Regions from separate parts of the Homo sapiens genome. Here region 2 is linked to region 1. The links come from fine-mapping of genetic effects on gene expression. A gene starts in region 1. The other region holds a variant in brackets. All regions are shown on one strand. Distances are from middle to middle.

Region 1 (5,383 bases):
TCTAATAAGGACCCAACCACGGTTTTATCTGGCTAGTTTTTTTGTTTGTTTTGAGCTCTGGTTATTTCCCATAGCCAGGAAAATCAAAATATTAAAAACAAGGGATAGGGGAAGGCCAGAAGAAAAAAACAACGCTGCAACTACCTAAAGCACTGTGTTAATTAACCGCATTTGCTGAGTGCCTTCTGTAGGTAAAAGCACCATACTATGGAGGGAAACAGAAAATAAGTATTAAAAGATATGGTTTCCACTTCCAGTAGTTTTCAATGCTCTTTGCTGTTTCAGGGGTATAAACTAAATAAGTAAAGCAAGATGGAAAAAAATTAGCAAATGACAACTTTAAATAATAAGCTTTTAACTAGAAAATTGATAAACCAAGAGTAAATATTTAAGGATTATAAATATGCATACTAAACACCCTTTCATGAGATCAGATGGTGGGTTTCAATTTTACATAAAAATTATGGTAACTGGAAACCGGGCGGATTAAGTAGTGTAGATGAACAGACAAGATATTGCATATGTGTAGAGGAAAGATAAATATTTGTATTAGGTGCCATTCAAATATGGTAGTCTTTTCACTACATAGAACTATGCCTTGAAAGCAATAGATACTACACTGTATAACTTAATTATTAACTTAAGCTCTGATTAAGCAAACTCAGTAAAACTTTCAATTGTCCCTCAGACTTGAAATGTATTACTGCATCAGGGATAAAGGAAAAGTCAAAATTATCTCTTATTTTGGTAGATGAAATTGAAAAAGTTGCAGTGTGTGTGTACATGGTGCATCCCCCCAAGATCTATCCATAAGAATGGCTTGCTTTTTGCTTATTTATATAAAACCCACTATGTTAAAACAATGATTTTGTTTAATAATTTACAAATTTATCAATGATTTATACATCTTAATTTTCAGTAATATGCAGTATTTGTTGCCAAATGGTGTAATACAATTATGAATGTCTGAAGATAATAAAACCAAGATGAGTAGAAATTTAAGAGTTCTTTGGGGAGGTCTGTTTCAGGTATAAAATAATATGCAATAATATGAAAGTGATTGGGTCTGGAATTATAATTTACTAAAGTAAACATAATTTATAAATAGCTATTAAAGGAAAACTAGGATATAATTTTTTCTCTACAAAATCTTTCCGTTTTGTGGTAAGTAAACAGATACATACTAGATTCTGCTTCAGTACAAGTTTACAAAAGGCAGTCTGAACTATTTGTGAATTCATTTTAATTTTCCCTCTCTACAACCCTTTCCAAAAGTTCCTCAAATACACTTTACCTCTCAATCTTACAGCGTTTCCCCTTTCCTATTAAGGTCCTTACCACATGTAATTTTGCCAAAGTTGCTTTAAAATAAAATAAGCACTAAAAGGAGAGAGTATGTGACATTTTTAGAGTAATATCTATAGCTATAGCATTAAACCCATGTTTCTCACGGAGAAAACATCTGTGCGTAGATGCTCCAGAATAAAATGCCCTAGAAACGAAACGGACTATATTCAGAGTAAAATTACTGTCGTGTCCCAAACTTAAAAAAATAAATAAACTGTCAGCAACTATTAGGCATACAGCAGTTGTCACTTGGAGCACACGAATGTTCTGAATGTGTTTGTGAGCATACGCTATTAGTATAAGGCTTTCTCAGCAAAAAAGAAAATAGGACGAGCATGCCAAGAGCGGCCAATCTAATCAGGATTTGCAGAAATCACAAGTCGGAATTTGCAGATCCAAGAATTCTTGTTTCCAGAGTAAATACTCTACTCCAAAAACAAACCCAGGCGTTACCAAACAGTCCTTCCCTGCGCCCCTTCTCGCCAAAGTTATCTGGCGAATTTCACGTTTATATATTCTGAGAGGCACAAATATGCCTAACACATTTAAAACCCTGATCCAGAATTAACCCGCAACAATCGGCCAGGGCGTTCGGAATAGAAGTTCAAGACTCCTTTTAGAAATTACTCAAGTATATGAGAGCGAACCTGAAAAACAAGACTTTTCTCTTTGTTACGCTCCCGCTACGGGTCTGGCCGCCGCGCCCCATTCTCCGGGATTCCGGGGCCGCGGGCGCGCTCCGGGGTCCGGGCGAGTGGACACACCCCACCGCTCGGGCCAGCCGCCCGCCCCTCCCGCCGGCCGGGGACCGCGCCCTCACCTGCTCCCGCTCCCGCTCCCGCATCCTCGGGGCCGCGCGCCCCGCTCAGCGACCCGCCTCCCGGGGCCCCGCCGCGCGGCCGCCGCAGCCGCACCCGCACGCCAGCCCGGGCCGCGGCGCGCTCATGGGGCTCGCACGCCTCACTTCCTGTCTCCAAAAACCCGGCTCGCAGACCATTCCCCTGGGCAGAGTCCGGCGGTGGCGACGGCGAGGGGCGAGGCCTGGAGGTGGGACCGGCCGGCGAGGAGCGCCGCACAAAGAAGCCCCGTGGGGGCGGGGGGTGGCAGGAGGACGGACAGACCGTCGGACCGACGCGGGACGCGCGGCCGGAGCAGCGGGGCGGCCGGGCCCAGGCGTCCCTCCCCCTGAGCCGGGCGGGCGGATCCGGGGAGGCGGCGGCGGCCCGTGACCTCAGAGAGTTGGAATGCGGGCAGCCGCGCGGGGGAGGCGCGGACAGCTGCGCCCGGCCGCCGGGGAGGGGGCGCGCCGCTGCTTTTTTTAATCGTATGACCACTTATTTTAAGAGTTTCCAAATAAAGCAAGGCTTTTAATAAAATGAGTGGAGGGGGTATTATTTAGGTTCCAGATAAAGGGTTTTATTCCTGTGTTATTAGGTAGGCTGTAAAATGCTGTTATTGATGGTTATTCGTTTACTCTGGTATATTTCTGAACACTATTGGAATACATTTCTTCTTTTCCTGCTTGCTCCTAAGGTTATGCCCCATATAACTAGACACTTCCAGTACTGGGTGGGAAAGCCCCCCCACCAAAAATGGTTCATATGCCTCAAATAACCTGTCAGTCCCCAAAAGGGAGCTGTCTGCTTATGCAATATAGAGCAGAACTGTTAAGGATGGAGACTTGACAAAGTTGTCAAATCCCAGCTCCAACATTTACTAGCTGGATGACCTTGTGCAAGTTTCTTAACTTCTCTTTACCTGTTTCCTCTCCTATAAAAGAGGGATATTAATATCTTTGCACAGCAGGGGTGGGGGAAATAAATACTAAGCAATATCCAATAACTTGTGTAAAGTATATATGAAGTGTTTCGTTTAAGGTTTATTATACAGTATTCTTGTACTGCATTATTACTGTATTGCAGCACTTAAGCTGAGGAATAAAACTGTGTGACCCTACCACTATTACAATAGTGTAAGATCTTTTCTTGGCATGTGGAACACAGAACCTTTTAATTTATGTAAATTTTAATTTCAGTGATTTTGTTTTAATGCTGTTGTTTCTGGAAAGCTTTTTAAAGTATTGTTTCATGTAAATCTCATTTTCTTAAACAATTAACAAAAACTTTTGAATACTTAACTCTGCATGAGACGTGGTCCCTGCACAACACGGACTTTTGGTTTAGTGGGTGATAAACGCACCTGCACACCACACACGCAGTACAAGGCCAAAGTGGGGAGCATTGTCATAGAGGTATGAGTGCTATCCAAGAGCAAAGCCCAGCAAGGTGCATCTTGGGTCGTTTAGCTAAAGGCAAATAAGATTACCTGTGTTTCTAAGGGAAAAAAAATAGATCAATTCTGTTTGTAATTGATATTTCAACTGAACTCTATGAGGGGGTCAATTTGTGTGTGAGCAAAGAAAAGAGATCTAAAAAGAAGTCACTTTGCTGGCTTCCCAAGGTAGAAAAACTGGAATCATGTGTGACTTCTCCCATTATCATCTCCAGCCTGTCATCAAGACCTGGTATTTCCTCCTTTGAAATGTCTCATGAATTCTTTGTTTCCTTTCTGTTCCCCCTGGAACATTCTAAATCCAAACCCTCATCATTTTACATCCGGATTATTGCAACAAGGGTGGTCTCCTGGCATCTGGTTTCTCAGTTCTCTCTTATTTCCTTGCTAATACCAGGCTTCCTTCTCTTATCACTCTTAATGGACTCCCAAGGTTAAGTTCTTCTGCCTGACCTATAGGGACTTTCCAAACGGGCCTCTCTGACCACCTATATCGCTTTCTGCCCCTGTCAAGCTTTGCCCCTGGCCAGCAGCCCCTCCTGCCCTCTTTCCACTTGTCTAAGCCTTCTGCTTCTCTGCAAGTAAGACTCTGCTTCCAGGATGACTTTCTAGCCACACCATTCCACAGTGATCTCCACACTTGGCAAGAACTGTAAAAGTTGTTTCATGACGGCTTCTTTTATATCTCCTAGGATTCCTAGGACAGTACTGGGCAAAGAGTAGGCACTAAATAAAAACTTGTTAATTGAATCAGGAAGAAAATAAAAGAATTTTAAAAATAGAAAATGACCATAAAACCCAAGAGATGTTAGACAACTGAGTTGAACTTCCTCCCTCACAGTCCACAGATGTCATTTACTGACCAAGTACCTAAGCCCTATTTTCCCTCAGCTATGTTAATTTGGCAGGAACATTCATGGGAAGGCACTTGAATAACACCTTCAAAATATTAGACATAAAATTATTAGCTTGTGTTGCATATCTAAGGAAGTGAGATAATTTATATGGTGCCACCCCCAAAGATACAAAAGGGTGTAAGTAAAAAGTCCCCTTCTCACCCTGCCTGCTAGACACCCAGCTCTTCTCCTGGGAGGTAACCAGTGTTCCCTCATTCCTCTGTATCCTTACAAAGATGTTCTGCAGAGTTACAAGAAACTACATATAAGTATCTTTACCCCCTCTTGTTATCCAGAAGGTGGCATACTTACACATACTTTTACACTGGAAGTTATTTCTTACTAAAATAAATAAAATGTAAAAAGAAAGCCCAGCACATAAAATGATGAAAGACAAAAAGATGAAAGAAGGCTGGGTGCAGTAGCTTATGCCTGTAATTCCAGCACTTTGGGAAGCCTAGGAGGGCAGATCAGCTGAGGTCAGGATTTCGAGATCAGCCTAGCCAACATGAAGAAACCCCGTCTCTACTAAAAATACAAAAATTAGCTGGGCGTGGTAGAGCATGCCTGTAGTCCCAGCTACTGGGGAGGTTGAGGCATGAGAATCGCTTGAGCCCAGGAGGCACAGGTTGTGGCGAGCCAAGATCACGCCACTGCACTCCAGACTGTGTGACAGAGCAAGACTCTGTCTCAAAAAAAAAAAAAAAAAAGGAAAGGAAATTGTGGTTTGGTGGGTGCACTGACTAGTGTTTTCTTAGAAGTTCAAAAGTTAATCTGTTTTGATAGCATGGTGAATACCCACCGTATAAATTATCATCATCTGCAAAAATCCAAATTGAATGAATGCC
Region 2 (5,383 bases), 89 kb before region 1:
GTGCAGACAGACCTTAATTTTACTTGTATGTGACCTAGGGATACCCTCTATATAATAGCATTTGCCTTGGAACTGCTGCTCCTTCAGCTGGGTGCTGAAGACCTTCACCTTCCTTCTTGGGCCATCCCTTACTTCCCATTTCAAGCCAGTAATATTAAGGAGGACATATAAGTGGCAACAGGAAAGGTAGGGGACAGTTTTGCCAATTTGCCCTCCTTCACCCCCTGCCCCACTTCAGACAGTTTCATTAGCAAGATCCCTGCTCACATTATAAGGCCCATTCTGTTCCTTACCCATGCACAGCTCAAGTTTCTGCAACAAACGCTGGCATACGTTCTGAAAAGTTTCCCATAAAACAGACACTTAACTTCAGTTGCTTTCTGAGTCTTGGTTGCCACTGCCCGACAGGAGTATTTATTCTCTGATCTCACCAGCAGGGTGCAGTAGGGAGAAAAGTTGCCCTATAATTTCTTGGAGTACAGAACACATACAGATACGGTTTGGTTCTGTACCACTGCTTACCTTTCAGGGCCCCTATGGTTTCAGTAAGCTTTGAGGGCACAAACTAAGAAGGCTAACACCAAGAGTATTGTTTGCATGGGTAAATATTACTAAAAGTCAACATACAAGTGAACTTTTAGAGCATATTTTTTATTTGGGAACTACCTGAAATACCCAGAAAACTATGCCACCACTTTAACAATCCAAGGACTTCAAATGTTTTCTAAAACTCTCTCTACCCAAGTAGACATGCAAACTTTGATCTGAATTTCCTGACATTTCCTTATTTTTCTGTTTTTGTTTTGTTTTTTTTTGAGACAGAGTCTTGCTCTGTCACCCAAGCTGGAGTGCAGAGGCGAGATCTCGGCTCACTGCAACCTCTGCCTCCTGGGTTCAAGCAATTCTCCTGCCTCAGCCTCCCTGAGTAGCTGGACACGTGCCACCATGCCCAGCTAAGTTTTGTATTTTTAGTAGAGACGGGGTTTCACCATGTTGGCCAGGCTGGTCTCATACTCCTGACATCGTGATCCACCCGCCTCGGCCTCCCAAAGTGCTGGGATTTACAGGGGTGAGCCACCACGACCGGCCTTCCTCATTTTTCTATAAATAATTTTAGATAGTAGGGTAAATGGAGTTCTTATTTCCAGGAATTTGAAAAGCTCATATTCTTTTGAGAAATGTTTTCCCAGGCAAATTTCTAATGCAGCTATTCCTCTACTTTTGAAATGTCCATCCCTCAGCTCAAAAGAAAGCACCCTGCAATTTAGATTCTTTTTTTAAAAAATTAAGTTTAAACTGGAAAGGGATAGTTTTAGCTTGTTCCACATGAAATCTTGCTGATAAGCAAATTCAACTACATTTCTATCCAAAAGAGTTCCTTTAAAAAGTCTGACTTACAGTCAGGCATGGTAGCTCATGCCTGTAATCCCAGCACTTTGGGAGGCCGATGCTGGCAGATCCCCTGAGGTCAGGAGTTCGAGACCAGCCTGGCCAACATGGTGAAACCCCATCTCTACTAAAAATTAAAAATTAGCCGGGCGTAATGGCGCACATCTGTAATCCCAGCTACTTGGGAGGCCAAGGCAGGAGAATTGCTTGAACCCAGAAGGTGGAGGTTTCAGTAAGCCGAGATCGTGCCACTGCACTCCAGCCTGGGTGACAGAACGAAACTCCGTCTCAAAAAAGAAAAAAAAAGTCTTATTTACAATAATTTCCTGTTTCCATTTCTTTATGCAAATCTCAAATAATAAACCTGCTCTTGGCAAGCTGCAGCTAATCTCCAGTTTATATTACTGTACATAGTTGTATATTTAAATTTTCTTAATATTGTGAACATTTAACATCTCAACCCTTCTGAAATGACTGATGGTGAAAGCTTCACAGAAAAGCTGGCCACGTCATGCTGTCGCCACTCAGTCCCACAACACCACACTCTCCTCCCTCCTCCTCCTGTTTCTGGCTAGACATTGCTTTCTGGACGTTTCTAAGGAAGCACAGGCCCAGCTTCTAATTCGACCAAAGGGTTTTAAAGTCTAAGTTCTAGCATTTTCTGAATGCTTCACAGTAGATGTTCCAGAAGAAATTAATGACTACAATAAGCATTCCAAATGATATTCTAAAATGAGGACTTTCTGGCTGGACACAGTGGCTCACGCCTGTAATCCCAGCACTTTGGGAGGCCGAGGCAGACAGATCACTTGAGGTCAGGAGTTGGAGACCAGCCTGGCCAACATGGTGAAACCCCGTCTCCACTAAAAATACAAAAATTAGCCGGGCATAGTGGTGCATGCCTGTAATCCCAGCTACTCAGGAGGCTGAGGCAGGAGAATCACTCGAACCCAGGAGGCAGAGGTTGCAGTGAGCCGAGATCATGCCACTGCACTGTAGCCTGGGCAATAGAGCAAGACTCCGTCTCAAAAATAAAAAATAAAATGAGTACTTTCTGTGCTCAAAACTACCAACTAAGCTAAACTATTTCATCAAAAGACCCCACTAATCAGGAAAACTGATACCAGAGATACCAAAATTGATCAGTGGAAAACAGTGGTTTATAACTCTACGTTTTGTGGAAGTGCACATTTTGATAATTCTTATTAAAAGACACTAAGATACATGAAGCATTGTGTAAGTTTGGCAGACATTAATATACTCATTTCAGAGGCAGTAAACCTATGAACCCTTAATGTTCTAGTTTGCTCTTGAAAATGATACTATTTCAAAGCTCAGTAATGTGGATAGATTTTT[A/G]TTCAGAAATCCTTTCATATTCACTAACTGCAATTAAAAGTTTAAAATTACATGGCTCTTAGGAATGACGCCAAACATGCAACATTTTAAGAGTAATATTAAACAGTAATTTTGCCCTCAGAAGTTTACTTATCAAATTATTACAACAGGAACACAAATAGACCACATATTACTCTTTAATTAGATTTGTTTTACAATATGTTCTTGTCAACGAGCTATGTCAAACTGTTTGTTTAAACCTGACAGAAAAGCATTTTCACAAAAACGTACCATGGAGAGGGAGGGGGAGGGGAAGAAGCACTTTTTCTAGAGATGGAAAATAGTTCCAGTAAAAAGTTCTTATTCCTTTCTTCTAAGGAGCTCGTTCTGAATATTTTCACTTAGTTCTACTGTTCTTTAAACAGGACTTTAAAAAGAATTTTGTATTTACAAAATTTACATTTTGTTCCTACAAAATGTAATTTTTTAATTTTGTAAAATAAAAATGTAAAATTTTAATTTTGTTCCTACATGAGAAGTGTGCGTACTTTCAATTAGTTTTCATTAATATCTTCTGAGTTTTCCTCTTAGGTGGTTGGTTTCTGGGTAAGGCAGAGTTAGGCTGGTGCACACACTATTTAGGAAGTCCTGTCTCGTGGCTGACAACATACATGTAGTGCTCAAGGAAGTGAGTTAAGGAGTGACATGGGAATCAAAATGATGCCTAGAATAGTGTAATTTGGGAAACAGCCCTAGATTTGACATTTTGGAAGTTCACTGTAAGAAGAGACCCCAAAAAGAAGGAAAAGGGAAAGGGTTCCTCAGCTAAATATCCCACTCATCCATGCCTACTCAGCGGTCACTGTGACAAGGCCATCTTAATCGGGGCCAGAGATGACACTCTCCCCCTGTAACTCAGCCTGGCTCTGTCTATTGGGATGTGCCTAAATGGGATGGGTGAGGGGGCACTAAACAGCTAACACTGGCCAGGGAATTATTAAGGAGCTAAAATGCAAGTACCTCTTGAATACCACAGCAATCTCTGTGCACAAATTTGGACTGTACTTTTTGGGAGAAGAGGTGAAAACTATTATTAACTATTCCCTTCCTTCAACCAAAAGGAAAAATACGCCTCTTTAAGGCTTCTTTTAATGATACTATAATGCTGAATTTATTTATGAAAAAGAAACAATACAGGTTGAGGTGGGAAAAGCCCCAAGGAAACGGAGTAAGTCACTGGCGGTCACAGGACTTGAATTCCCTGGGGACAGTGCTGTGGGGTCCCCTGCTCGCCATCCCAGCACCTCAGTCTGAGTATAGATAATACTGCATTTTTGTAAAGACGAAGGCATCCTGCATTTACCATCACACTCCACCTACTCTTGTCCTAGTCATCTTACATACTCTTAGTCCTTAATCTCTCCCAAAACGCTTCTCAGCGCCCATTGTTATTGTGTCATCTACAAAGCAACACATATATTAAAACTCAGATTTGTTTTTAACAAAAAAGTGCTTAAAACCACCCTAGGCAATTGTTTTTCACTTCATTTTCAACCAATAAAATCAAATTCATTTAGATCTATGAATAATACTGAAAAAATAATGCTTATTCTCTTACATTTTAAATAATGTGCCTTCATCCTCAACTTTACATTAACTGACTCATTTCAGTATCTAAATGAATTGAGCTCTCATTTGAAAAACAGAAGGTACAACTATATAGAATTTTTAGGATAAAAAATGTTCTGGATAGAAAAATCCTTTTGATGTTTCAAAATAACACAGATTCTCAGTATAGTTTTCAGTTTGGCAACTAAACCATTATTAAGTACCCAAGGTTTTTAAAAAATAACAAAAGATAATAACATGATTTTTAAATACAAAGTTATATAGGAGCAACTCATATCTGTGGATCATCCTTACACAAAGTTGTTTCTCACTAGAAAAATCCCTAAATATTTGTCATAAAATAAAAACTCCATTATCAAAAATTAGTTTAAGATAGAAATCTATGCACTTTAATGATTGCCAGAATTGCCCAGCATAGCTTCAGTAAAATAGAGAATTGTCTAGAAAATACAATCTCCAAAATGTGTGCAAGTACTGCAAACCGGACAGACCGGGGCAGGGCAAGGCCCTTGAAACCAAGTCCTCCTTGAGCACCTTTCCCAGGTTAGAAACCCCTCTTCAGCCTGTGCTTCGCACGTTTCCTTCAGCGTGCCGCCATTCAGACTGCGCCACTTACGTCCCAGTGCCACGCTGCGTGGATCAAGTGTCAACGGGAAAGTATGAGTTAGGCAAGCGCTTTTTTTTTAAGCTGTAAACGCTTCACATGACTGGCCCCGTAAGAAATTGTGGGAGCTTAGATGAGCCTGGAGCTTTTCAGGAACTGGATGAGGACTCTGTACACAAATGTGTACTGGCAGAGAGTCTGCACCAGCATCATTCTCTGTTGCCTCAGCATGTCCAGCACTCTCGGGATGTCCAGCACCTAGGTTGAGAGAAACGGTAATGAAGATAATGTGTTCCCCTGGGGAGACAGAAAGGATGGGAGGACACGAGTGTCCTGGCAGAAACCTGGTTGGGAGATGGACAGTCTCTTTTCCACCTTAGCGTCTTCTAGAAATAAGCCATGATTGCCTACTTCTGATTTTCTGAT

What was found. PIP is the estimated chance that this variant, and not a neighbour inherited with it, causes the effect.
Region 2: its variant is fine-mapped to the expression of PTPN21 in cerebellum (GTEx, PIP 0.96). The same link has a PIP of 0.9 or more in fibroblasts.

What each region holds. Positions count from the first base shown.
Region 1 is chr14:88,552,484-88,557,866 of GRCh38, forward strand. PTPN21 (protein tyrosine phosphatase non-receptor type 21) reads right to left here and starts at 2,524. Exons shown (of 19, transcript NM_007039.4): 1 at 2,168-2,524. It overlaps LOC124903405 (proline-rich protein 2-like), which reads right to left and starts at 4,307. Exons shown (of 2, transcript XM_047432047.1): 1 at 4,280-4,307; 2 at 2,174-2,577. The coding sequence starts at 4,307. The coding sequence ends at 2,213. RefSeq lists a silencer at 2,482-2,531.
Region 2 is chr14:88,463,051-88,468,433 of GRCh38, forward strand. PTPN21 (protein tyrosine phosphatase non-receptor type 21) reads right to left here. Exons shown (of 19, transcript NM_007039.4): 19 at 2,728-5,215. The coding sequence ends at 5,087. It also overlaps a transcript of SPATA7 not described here. Among named protein-coding and RNA genes, the nearest start is that of SPATA7, 80 kb to the left of the region's middle. The variant A/G (reference allele first, on the strand shown) is at 2,746.